Regions from separate parts of the Homo sapiens genome. Here all the other regions are linked to region 3. The links come from fine-mapping of genetic effects on gene expression. A gene starts in region 3. Each other region holds a variant in brackets. All regions are shown on one strand. Distances are between the middles of the regions.

The links. PIP is the estimated chance that this variant, and not a neighbour inherited with it, causes the effect. A credible set is the group of variants that fine-mapping cannot tell apart.
Region 1: its variant is the best candidate, but not a certain one, in a credible set for the expression of KPTN in sun-exposed skin (GTEx, PIP 0.59).
Region 2: its variant is the best candidate, but not a certain one, in a credible set for the expression of KPTN in aorta (GTEx, PIP 0.88).

The regions. Positions count from the first base shown.
Region 1 is chr19:47,578,922-47,583,158 of GRCh38, forward strand. It overlaps the pseudogene RN7SL322P. Among named protein-coding and RNA genes, the nearest start is that of ZNF541, 7.9 kb to the left of the region's middle. The variant A/G (reference allele first, on the strand shown) is at 1,792.
Region 2 is chr19:47,561,203-47,565,439 of GRCh38, forward strand. All of the region lies in intron 2 of ZNF541 (zinc finger protein 541), which reads right to left. Among named protein-coding and RNA genes, the nearest start is that of ZNF541, 9.8 kb to the right of the region's middle. The variant C/T (reference allele first, on the strand shown) is at 1,606.
Region 3 is chr19:47,482,199-47,486,407 of GRCh38, forward strand. It overlaps KPTN (kaptin, actin binding protein), which reads right to left and starts at 2,021. Exons shown (of 12, transcript NM_007059.4): 1 at 1,737-2,021; 2 at 1,304-1,386; 3 at 1,097-1,181; 4 at 963-1,017. The coding sequence starts at 1,962. It overlaps NAPA-AS1 (NAPA antisense RNA 1), which reads left to right and starts at 2,084. Exons shown (of 4, transcript NR_038452.1): 1 at 2,084-2,326. It also overlaps a transcript of NAPA not described here. RefSeq lists enhancers at 1,946-2,235, 2,266-2,395.

The sequences.
Region 1 (4,237 bases), 97 kb after region 3:
CCGAGTAGCTGGGACTACAGGCGCCCGACACCACGCCCAGCTAATTTTTGTATTTTTAGTAGATGGGGTTTCACCGTGTTAGTCAAGATGGTCTCGATCTCCTGACCTCGTGATCTGCCGGCCTCGGCCTCCCAAATGCTGGGATTACAGGCGTGAGCCACCACGCCCAGCCTTTTTTTTTTTTGAGATGGAGTCTGGCTCTGTCTCCCAGGCTGCAGTGCAATAGCATGATCTTGACTCACTGCAACCACCGCCTCCCAGGTTCTGCCTCAGCCTCCAGAGTAGCTGGGATTACAGGCGCCCGTCACCACACCCAACTAATTTTTATACTTTTAGTAGAGACGGAGTTTCACCATGTTGGCCAGGGTGGTCTAGAACTCATCCTGACCTCAGGTGATCCGCCCGCCTCAGCCTCCCAAAGTGCTGAAATTACAGGCATGAACCATTGCACCCCGCCTGTTTTGTGTGTGTGTGTTTTTTTTTTTTTTTTTTTTGAGACAGGGTCTCATTCTGTCGCCCAGGCTGCAGTGCAGTGGTGCCATCTGGGCTCACTGCAATCTCCGCCTCCCAGGTTCAAGCCATTCTCCTGCCTCACCCTCCTGAGTAGCTGGGACTACAGAAGTGCACCACCATGCCTGGCTTATACATTTTTTATTTTTTGGTAGTGACGGGGTTTCACTGTGTTAGCCAGGCTGGTCTCAAACTCCTGGCCTCAGGTGAGCCGCCTGCCTCGGCCTTCCAAAGTATGAGGATTTTAGGCATGAGCCACCGAGCCTGGCCAATGTTTTTGTAGTTTTGACAAATGTATAGTTGTGTCACTTAACAACGGAGATCTGTCTGAGAGATGTATCTTCAGGTGATTTTTTCCTTGTTGCGTGAACGTCGTAAGCTGTACAAACCCAGATGGTATAGCCTAGCACACAGCTAGGCTGTATGGTGTAGCCTATTGTTCCTAGGCTACAAACATGCAGCATGCAACTGTACTGAATACTGTAGGCAGCTGAAACACAAAGGTAAGTATTTGTGCATCAAAACATAGAAAGGTACAGTAGACCAGGCGTGGTGGCTCATGCCTGTAATCCCAGCACTTTGGAGGCCGAGGCAGGTGGATCACCTGAGGTCAGGAGTTCGACACCAGCCTGGACAACATGGTAAAACCCCATCTCTACTTAAAATACAAAAATTAGCCAGGTGTGGTGGCAGGCACCTGTAATCCCAGCTACTTGGGAGGCTGAGGCAGGAGAATCACTTGAACCTGGGAGGCGGAGGCTGCAGTGAGCCGAGACCTCGCCACTGTACTCCAGCCTAGGCGATAGAGCGAGAGTCCATCTCAAACAAAAAAGAAAAGAAAAGAAAAGAAAAAAGAAAAGGTACAGTAAAAATACAGTATTATAATCTTACAGGACCTCTGTCATATGTGTAGTTCTTATTGGCCAAAACGTTGTTATGTGGCACATGACTGTCCTGTGATAAAGTAAGATGCCAACATCAGGGAAAGGGTGAGGGGGATGTGGTAACTCTTTGTACCATCTTTCCAAGTTTCCAGTAAATTTAAAATTACTCCAAAATAAAAAGTTTAGGGTGAAAAAAGAAGGAAAGGAAATGAAAATGTCCACCTATAGGAGACTGGATAAATCGTGGTATAGTTATTCAATGGAGTATTATGCAGCAGTGAAAATGAGTCAATTTCCATTACACACAGCAACACAGATGTGCTCCCATTTACATATAACATTTCAACAGGGTGTGGTGAATCGTGTCTGTAATCCCAGCACTTTGGGAGGCCGAGCC[A/G]GGAGGCATCACTTGAGGCCAGGAGTTCAAGACCAGCCTGGACCACATGGCAAGAAAAATTAAAAATAAACTGGGCATGGTGGCGTGATCTGCCTGTAGTTCCAGCTTCTCAGGAGGCAGAGGTGAGAGGAACACTTGAGCCCTGGAGGTCGAGGTTGCAGTGAGCCATGATCCCACCGCTGCACTCCAGCCTGGGCAACACAGTGAGACTCTGTCTCAAAAATAAATATCATTTCAAAACACAGGCAAAGCTAAACAATAAGCAGTTTAGGGACATAGATAGAATTATTATTTTTTTTAAAGTAAGGGAGCCAGGCATGGTGGCACACACCTGTGGTCCCAGATACTCGGGAGGCTGAGGCAGGAGGATCACTTGGGACCAGGAGTTCTGGGCTGTAGTACACTATGCCAATGCAGGGTCCACGCTAAGTTTGGCATCAGTTTGGTGGCCTCCTGAGAGCGGGGGATCACCAGGTTGCCTAAGGAGGGGTGAACTGGCCCATGTTGGAAATGGAGCAGGTCAAAACTCCTGTGTTAATCACTGGTGGGATCATGCCTGTGCATAGCCACTGCACTCCATCCTGGGCAACATAGCAAGACCCTATCTCTTAAAAAAAGAAAAAACTAGCCAGATGTGGTGGCATGTGCCTATAGTCCCAGCTACTCAGGAGGCTGAGGTGGGAGGATCGCATGAGCCCAGGAGTCCGAGGTTGCAGTGAACTATGATTGTACCACTGGACTCCAGCCTGGTCTACAAAATGTGACCTTATCTCTCATAAACAAAACAAAACAAAATAAAATGGAAGCCCCTGAGAAGCTAAGGGAAAAGATGCTCTTCAGAAGGAGAGGGGTACACCCTGGCCGCAGGTTCCTCTTCTCTGCCAACCTTTTCCTGTTGTCTCCATCTATTCACTTTGTTCAGCATTGCTTTCTGTGATTTGTCTTTTGAATCACGTCCTTCAAGCATTCTCACACTCCTCACTCCTCTCGGCCTCTAAAGGACTCACCTGGCCAAACTCCAGCCATCCTCTTCTCTGTGCCAGCCGAGCCCAGCAGAAGGAAACCACCCAGCCAGCCCAACGGGTTTTACCTGAATCAGAGAAATCACAGGCCTCAGACAGGCGCAGGGCACTCTCTATGTGTCTCTGGTGTGCTTACATTTCCCCCCTGCCCTCCAGCCCATGACTAGGTCCCACACTTCCCTGTGCACATAGAAGCCATCAGAAGGGAACCCCCTTGTCATCTGTCCCTGTGATTCCCTCTCTCAAGGATTGGGGTCTCCCTCCCTCCTTCCTTCCTTCCTTCTTTCCTTCCTTCCTTCCTTCCTTCCCTGCCTCCCGCCCTTCCTTCCTTCCTTCTCTCCCTCCCTCCCTGCCTTCCTTCCTTCCTTCTTCCCTTCCACCTCCCTCCTTCTCTCCCTCTTTCCTCTTCCATTGAAGTTTCTCCTCCTCTCCTCCTCCTCCCCCCTCCTCCTCTTCCTCCTCCTTTTCCTCCTCCCCTCCTCCTCCTCTTCCTCTGCCTGTCCTCCTCCTCCCCTCCTCTTCATCCTCCCCTTGTCCTCCTCCTCTTCCTTTCCCCCTCCTCCTCCTCTTCCTTCCCCCTCCTCCTCCCCTCCTCCTTCCCTCCTCTTCCTCTCCTCCTCCTCTTCCTCCTGCCCTCCCCCCTCTTTCTCCTCCCTCCTCTTCATTTCCTCCTCTTCTCCTCTTTCTCTTCCTGTCTCCTATATCATTCATCATCTCTCTCTCCTTCTGCCAAATCATGCCCATCACTATCCTCAAATGCTCCTGCCTCTTCCATTCATTTTTTAAAAAGAATTCCTCCCTTGAGGGAACCGAGAGATAAGAGAGACTGTAGCCACAAATCAACCACATGCAACCCAAGGACTTTGGATGCTGAGTCGAACAGACCAATGTTTTGTTTCGTTTTGTTTTTAAATTATCAGACAAGTAGAGAAATCTGAACTCTGACTGCCTATTCGATGATAGGAAAGAATTATGGTGCATTTTTTAGATGGATCACGGGATTGTGGTTATATTTCTATAAACAAACCTTATCTCCAGAGATATGAAATGAATAATCTGTACATGAAATGATGTGATGTCTGGGATGTGTTTTAAAACTATCTAGTGGGGTGAGGGTGGGGCCAATGAGAGACGGTAGAAATGAAACAGCATTGGCCATGAGTTGATAATTGGTGAGGCCCAGTGACCGGCATGTGGAGTTAATCATACTCTTTTATTTTTATATATATTTGAAAATGGGCTTATTTAAAAGTGATGTAAAAATTCCTCTCTTTGGCTGGCTGCAGTGGCTCACACCTGTAATCCCAGCACTTGGGGAGGCCAAGGTGGGCAGATCACCTAAGGTTGGGAGTTTGAGACCAGCCTGATCAACGTGGAGAAACTCTGTCTCTACTAAAAATACAAAATTAGCCAGGCGTGCTGGT
Region 2 (4,237 bases), 79 kb after region 3:
GTGGCTCACACCTGTAATCCCAGCACTTTGGCCCAGGAGTTTGACAAAGTCAGACCCTGTCTCTATGAAAAAAAATTTTTTTTTAATTAGCTGGGCATGGTGGCACATGCTTGTGGTTTCAGCTACTTGGGAGGCTGAGGAGGGTGAATCGCTTGAGCCCAAGAATTGGAGGCTTCATTGAGCTATGATTGCGCCACTGCACTCCAGCCTGGGCAACAAAGTGATACCCTGTCTCAAAATAATTAATTAATTAAGTATTAAAAAAATTAAAAAATCCAAATGAATAAAAAAAGAGCTTCCACATATTCCTGGGAATTTAGAAGGTGGCATCTCAGGGTGGGCACATGTTTGGAAAGGACCAGAGAAGGCTTCCAAGCTCTCACCTCTGGCTGACCTTCGCTCTGTGCAGGCAGAGAGTGAAGGCGAAGGTAGGGTTGTTAACCGCCTGCCTGAGTGTGGAAGCAGTGCCCCGCTGCAACTACTGGGAGCTTTTTGTTTTTTGTTTTCTGTTTTGTTTTTTTTTTAGCTCCAGGAGTTTAAGAAGATCTCTGTTAAGTCACTAGCTGACCACTAAACTAACAGAACAGACTACTGACCACACCCCACAAAGAACACAATCTTTACAAAAATAGCTTAGAAAAGCCACTAAACAAACAGTTACAACCCACAATAAGCAGAAACAACCAAGCCTGAGGACAGGGAAGAAAGGAAGAATCCCATTCCCAGAGTTACCAGACTGCAATATGCAAAATATCCAGTTTACAGGCTGGGTGCAGTGGCTCACGCCTGTAATCCCAGCATTTTGGGAGGCCGAGGCGGGTGGATCACCTGAGGTCAGGAGTTCAAGACTGGCCTGGCCAACATGGCGAACCCCCGTCCCTACTAAAAATATAAAAATTAGCTGGCTGTGGTGGCAGGCACCTGCAATCCCAGCTACACGGGAGGCTGAGGCAGGAGAATCGCTTGAACTCGGGAGGTGGAGGCTGCAGTGAGCCAAGATCGTGCCACTGCACTCCAGCCTGGGCGACAGAGACTGTCTCCCCAAAAAAAACAAAAACAGGCCAGGCGCGCTGGCTCATGCCTGTAACCCCTGCACTTTGGGAGGTCCGGGAGGGCGGATCACTTGAGGTCAGGAGTTCAAGACCAGCCTGGCCAACATGGTGAAACGCCATCTCTACTAAAAATACAAAAATTAGCTGGGCGTGGTGGTGTGTGCCTGTAATGCCAGCTACTCAGGAAGCTGAGGCAGGAGAATCGCTTGAACCCGGGAGATGGAGTCTGCAGTGAGTTGAGATTGTGCCACTGCACTCCAGCCTGGGTGACAGACTGAGACTCCATTTCAAAAAAAACTAAAAACAAAAAACAAAACAAAAAAAACCAAACAGATAAAATGTCCAGTTTTCGAATCATGGAAGCTTGAGAAAAATGAGAGATCGAGTTTTTCAGCAAAAAATTATGAGTCATGAAAACAAAAAAGCATAGCCCCTTCAGATGGCCATCTGTCTCACACAAATGGAATCAGATGACCTGTGGCCTTCTGTGTCTGGCTTCTTTCACTAAGCACAGTGTTTTCAAGGTTCACCCCCATTGCAGCACGTGTCACTG[C/T]TCCATTTCTTTCCAGGGCTAAATAATGTTCCCCTGTCTGGAGAGACCACATTTTGTTTAACCACTCTCCTGTTGATGAACATTTGGGTTACTTCCATTTGGGGGCTATTGTGAATAATTCTGCTCACACCTAGATGTTAAAGAAATGCTTCATGACTCACTGAATAACAAATCTAGTGCATACTTGAATAACGGGAGTTTGGGACTAGATTTCTAGGCCACCAGTTTCTACTTTCTAAGAACTTTTCATGTTGATATGTAATAGAACCTCTGCACCTGCAATGTCTGCATTGCATGTTATATGTCTACCTGCCTGTCTGCGTGTATGCAGCCTATTGAGGCAGCACAAATTTAAAGTCACATACAGGTACGTAATCCCATATACAACTCTGAGACCCAACTGAGTTTCAGAATTTGAGGGGGTTTTAGAAGTGTAAATCAATGCATACCCCGTATTTTAAGTAACTTCCAGTGGGGTTCAAGGCAGTACCTGGTAACCAAATAATTATTTCTGCATCATTGCCTATGACCACTCAGCGTACGTGAAATAAAGGCTGTGAAAAGCAACATGTAGGGTCAGGTTTGGCCACCAGATGATATTCGAGATGCCTCAGGATTCTCAGAGCTTTTTGGGTTTCCAAAAAATCAGGGAGAGGAGTGTGGATCTGTAAGCCAAATTCAAATTTCACCAGTTCCACAGTGTCTGCTACAGTGCTGCTATAAACTGTTTTCACCACTCTATGAGGGGAAAAACCCATCTCCCCCTGCATCTCCCAATAATAAAAACAAGTGAATAAAAATCACATATATATTTTTTGAGACGAAGTCTTGCTGTGTCCCCTAGGCTAGAGTGCAGTGGTGCAATCTCGGCTCACTGCAACCTCTGCCTCCTGGGTTCAAGCAATTCTCTTGTCTCAGCCTCCCAGTACCTGGGATTACAGGCACTCACCACCACGCCTGGCAAATTTTTGTACTTTTAGTAGAGATAGGGTTTCACCACGCTGGTCAGGCTGGTCTCAAACTCCTGACCTCAGGTGATCCACCCGCCTCGGCCTCCCAAAGTGCTGGGATTACAGGCATAAGCCCCCGCGCCTGGCCTAAAAATCGTATTTATTAAGCACTTTCTCCACATCGGGTATCATACCAAGTGCTTTATATGCATTAACTTACTTCTCACAAAAACCTAGATTGTAGTATTACTTCCCTTTTACAAATAAGAGAGACTAATTTGTCCAAAGTCAAAACCCAACAGCCAGATCTTAAACCCAGATACTCTGACATTAGCGCTAATGGTCTTGCCCATTACACAGTACTGATTCCCTATAAACTGAACTGTATACTGCACTGCTCCAATTAAACTACAAAACACATAAGGTGCTGGGTCAGGGGGAAGAATGTCTCTGGACTCCCCAAGGCCAAATCACCTGCTTTCCAATATACTCCCATAGTCCACAGAACAAACTGGTCAGGTTACAACCTCAGACAGGCAAGCCAAAAGTCCAAAGGCCATGCCTTGATATTTACATCCTTCTCCAGACAGTAAAGCAAAACCCTCTCTACCGATACTGAGCTTCCTTTTATTCTGTCAACAAATACATTCAATTCAACAAGAGTTTTAGCACCTTCTAGGTACAAAACTCTCTGCTAGCCCTTACGAGGCAGAGTTTATGGTCTCCTGCAACCCGGCAGACATTCCCAAGGACCCAAATACTCTTTCCAAGAATTTTATCATTTTGTGTTTTCATTTAAATGCTCAACATCACTAACGATCAGGGAAATGCAAATCAGAACCACAATGGGATACCACCTTACTCCTGCAAGAATGGCCGTAATCAAAAAATAAAAAAATAACAGATGTTGGCATGGATGCGGTGAACAAGAAACCTTTCTACACTGCTGGTGGGAATGTAAACTAGTACAGCCACTATAGAAAACAGTGTGGACATTCCTTAAAGAACAAAAAGTGGAACTACCATTTGATCCAGCAATCTCACTCCTGGGTATCTACCCAGAGGAAAAGAAGTCATTATAAGAAAAAGATACTTGCACATGCATGTTTAGAGCAGCATAATTTGCAATTCCAAAAATACGGAACCAGCCCAAATGCCCACCATCAATCAAGGAGTGGATAAAGAAATATATATATGATGGAATACTACTCAGCCATAAAAAGGAACGAAATAATGGCATTCACAGCAACCTGGATTGAACTGGAGACTATTATTCTTCTAAGTGAAGTAACTCAGGAATGGAAAATCAAACATCGTATGTTCTCACTTTGTAAGTGAGAGCTAAGCTATGAGGATTAAAGGCATAAGAATGATACAATGGACTTTGGGGACTTGGGGGGAAAGGGTGGGAGGGGATGAGGGATAAAAGACTACAAATTGGGTTCAATGTATACTGCTTGGGTGATGGGTACACTAAAATCTTACAAATCACCACTAAAGAACTTACTCATATAACCGAGTACCACCTGTTCCCCCAAAATCTATGGAAATAAAAAACTAAAAAAAGAAAAAAGAAAAGAAAAACCCAGTACATCTGGATCATTAGAGGACTCCCTTGTAACCGAGTACTACCATGTGGTTTCAATGCCTGGGTGTGTTTATGATTGCACTCATGCCAAAAA
Region 3 (4,209 bases):
GATGCTCCGGCCAGGCGTGGTGGCTCACGCCTGTAATCCCAGCACTTTGGGAGGCCAAGGCGGGCGGATCACCTGAGGTCAGGAGTTCGAGACTAGCCTGGCCAACATGGCAAAAACCTATCTATACTAAAAATACAAAAATTAGCCGGGCATGGTGGTGTGAGCCTGTAATCCTAGCTACTCAGGAGGCTGAGGCAGTAGAATCACTTGAACCAGGGAGGTAGAGGTTGCAGAGATCGAGCCACTGCACTCCAGCCTGGCAACAGAGCGAGCATCTATCTCAAAAAAAAAAAAAAAGAAAGAAAAAAAAAGTGCAATGCTTTAAAAAACAAATGTAGAATCTGATTGTCTATGGACAAGTTCGTGGTCTCCAGTTAGCTACAGCTTTCCAACCTCAGCTGCATATGTGTGTGTGCACATGTGCTCCCTGTTATATTACATTTGTGCTTTCCATTCTCACATGACCTCTCTGGTCCCCAAAGGCATTTTAGTTTAATTTCATTTTATTTTATTTATTTATTTTTGAGACAGAGTTTCGCTCTTGTCACCCAGGTTGGAGTGCTGTGGTGCAATCTTGGCTCACTGCAACCTCCGCCTCCCGGGTTCAAGTGATTCTCCTGCCTCAGCCTCCTGAGTAGGCTGGGATTACAGGCACACACCACCATGCCCAGCTAATTTTTGTATTTTTAGTAGAGACGGGGTTTCGCCATGTTGGCCAGGCTGGTCTCAAACTCCTGACCTCAGGTGATCCGTCTGCCTCAGCCTCTCAAAGTGCTGGGATTACAGGTGTGAGCCACCGTGCCCGGCTGGCATTTTAGTTTTCAATCCCTAATCTAGTACAACCTCTTTATTTTCCAGAAGGGGAAACAGACTACAGGGGTCTGTAAGTAAAGAAGGGGTTCGAGAAGCCAGGGTTTCTACATTTACAGTGGAGTGGGCGTCGATGCGCAGGGGACACTCACTCCGCATGGCACAGCTGGAACGGAGTGAACTGGAGCTCCAGGTTCAGGCAGCTCTCTGTAGGCAGGGCACAGGCAGGTTAGCATGGGGGACCTGCTGGGGACTCTCTCCCTCCTCCCGTCCACGCCTCACTCACGGGCAATAGAGTCAAGGTTGTACTCAGAGCCGGGCTCGTAGTCGCAGTAAATGTTCAGGAAGGGGCTGCCCTTGTCCCCTGAATCCTGGCGGAGGACACGGGGTTCAGGGGAGGGCAGGGGTGGCAGGAGGGATCCGGGGCGGCTCAGTGGAACTCACCATGTGTGTAAGGAGGAGGGCGAAGGGAGGTGGAGGGGGCTCTAGGTACCTTGATGAACGTGATCCCCACAACCAGACCCCGCTTGGGGGGTGACTTGTTGAAAGTGTCGATGGAGACAATCTCCGCATCCACTGGGAGGGGAGAGTTCTAAGTTCAGTGTCAGGCAGACTCATGCTTCCAATCTCCCCAACATGGTGAGCTCTGGCTACCGCAATGATCATGCCCTCTGGTCTGAGTCCTGACCACCATCACCTGATCTCTGTTCCCTGGGTACTAGGGATCCTGACCTGTAAGTCTGAAGAATCCTGAAACCCTAGGCTCATCCGGGCCCCAACTATGCCTGCCCGCTGATCCCAGTGACCCCCTTAAAACCACCTGATCCCATTCTTCCAGCACGGTGACCCGGCTCAGACAGAGCCTCAGAAGCCTTCTCAACACCACGTTCCAGGCCCCCGCCCCCCAGCACCATAGCGCCACCCACCGGGAATGTAGTTGAACTGCAGCTCCTTGGCCACTGGCCGGATTTTCTGTCGGAGGTCTTGGTAGCGGAAGCCGAGCACCTTGCCTTTAAGGGTGGCGGCCAGCAGCTCCCCGCGCCCGCCGGCGCCGCCTGCCAGCCCGTACACATTGCTCTGCGACGAGAAGCGCGTGAAGCTGTCCTCGCGCAACGGACAAGGCCCCGCGGCCACGGCCGCCTCCCCCATCATGCCCCTCAGTTAAGCACCCTCTCCGCAGCCCCCGCCCCAACCCGCACTACCCAACCTACGACTCTCTAAGCGACCTGAACCGCCGGGTGCCCGGCCGTTGCGCGGGCTGATGACGTACGGAAGCTGCCGGCGTTGCCCTCTCCCAAGATGGCGGCCAGGTCGCCTGCTCGGGCCTCCCAGGCGACTTTGCCCCACTGCGCCCGCGCTCTCTTCTCCTTTCCATTTCTGGACCAAGGGGCTGCCATAAGGAGTCTGTGACTAGAGATGGGAGGTGGTGGCCACGGCCTCTCGCTGTATGCTGTGTGGAAGGTCGAATCATCATCATCATAAAACTTAATATTGCCCTTATGTGCCAGGAACTACTGTAAGTGCATTCCATCTAATACTTTATTAAAAATTCGCAAGGGGGTGGAGGTAGGTACTTAAATCCATTTTAGAGATGAAGGAATTGAGGCACAGAGGGGTAAAGTAACTTGCCTAAGATCACACAGCTAGTAACGAGCGGTCAGTACTGGAAACCAAACAAGGTAACTCCACAGTTCACTATTTTTTTTTTTTTTTTTTTTGAGACGGAGTCTTGCTCTGTCACCCTGGAGTGCAGTGGTGCGATCTCGGCTCACTGCAACCTCTGCCTCCTGGGTTCAAGCGATTCTCCTGCCTCAGCCTCCCAGCAGCTGGGATTACAGGCGCCACCACACCTGGCTAGTTTTTCTATTTTTAGTAGAGATGGGGTTTCGCCATGTTGCCCAGGCTGGTCTGGACCTCCTGACCTCAGGTGATCCGCCCACCTCGGCCTCCCAAAGTGCTAGGATTATAGGCGTGAGCCCCCTTGCCCGGCCTATAGTTCATAATCTTAACAGTATCACCTTTAAAATAATTAATACATTCTTCTTGCCCCCAAGGAAAAATGATCCAGCTATAATAACCACCTCCTTTATCGAACACCTACTTGGTGACAGTCATGCTGGCTCTGATAATCTGATTCCTTACAACTGTTCTGCAAGGGCCTACTGTTACCCTCCCTGCCGGTTCACTTATTCAGGATTCATTGAGCTTTTACTATGTGCCCGGACGTCCTTTGCAAATCTGTCTCACTAATCTTTGCAAGAAAGAAACCTCTACAAAGAGGTTTATTATCCCAGTTTAGAGAGAATCAAATGGAGGCTCAGAAAGAGTAAGTCCACTGACTGATATGCTAGCAAGTGGTGGGGACAGGATGTAAACCAGGTGTTTCCGACTCTGGGGCCTTCAGGGGTTCCTGTCTGTGCTGCTTTGTCCCTAGAAGGCCATGGAGGTTTGGGTACTATGTGCACATCTGTGTATCATTTCCAGAAGACATGGGTTGGCCAGCTGTCCTGGACACCTCGAGCACACACAGACTGCAAGCTCCATGAAGGCAGCAGGCTGATCTCCCTTGATCACGGCCTTATCGCCTGTACCTGGAACACAAGGCCTGACACAAAGCAGGCATTCAGAAAATATGTGTCAAAAATCACAAACTATGTGCTGAGCATGTAAGAGACAGCTCTTACATGATGGAAAGTTCTCAAAGGCAGACTGGATAACGGAGGTGGCAAGGAATTTGTGATGATTCCAGATTTCTGGATGTGGAGAGTAGAAGTTCCTGGAGGGCAGTCTGGGAATGCCGTCAGTGCTGCTGTATTCCCAGGGCCTGGCATGCAGCAGGTGCTTAGTGAATATTCGCTGAGGGAGTGGCACGTGGGTCTAGTGCCACTTCAGCAGTGCGTTTCCTTCAGGCGTCTTCCCGCCCTAGTAACCTATAAGCCACATGTTGAGCGGATGAATGAAAAAATGAAGTTACAGGTTAGGAAGGAATCATCCTGTTAAGAGGTTTCCAATCCTAGCTGCACACTTGAACTGCCTATGAAGTTTTAACAAAACAAACCAAAACAGGCCGGGCCTGGTGGCTCATGCCTGTAATTCCAGAACTTTGGAAGCTGAGGCAGGCGGATCAACTGAGGTCAGGAGTTTGAGACCAGCCTGGCCAACATGGTGAAACGCTGTCTCTGCTAAAAATACAAAAATTAGCTGGGCGTGGTGGCGCACGCTTGTAATCCCAGCTACTCGGGAGACTGAGGCAGGAGAATCGCTTGAACCCGGGAGGCAGAGGTTGCAGTGAACCAAGATCGCACCACTGCACTCCAGCCTGGGCGATAGAGCGAGACTCTGTCTCAAAAAAAAAACAAACCCAAAAACCCCCAAAGGGTAGGAAACCTCAGTCAAACC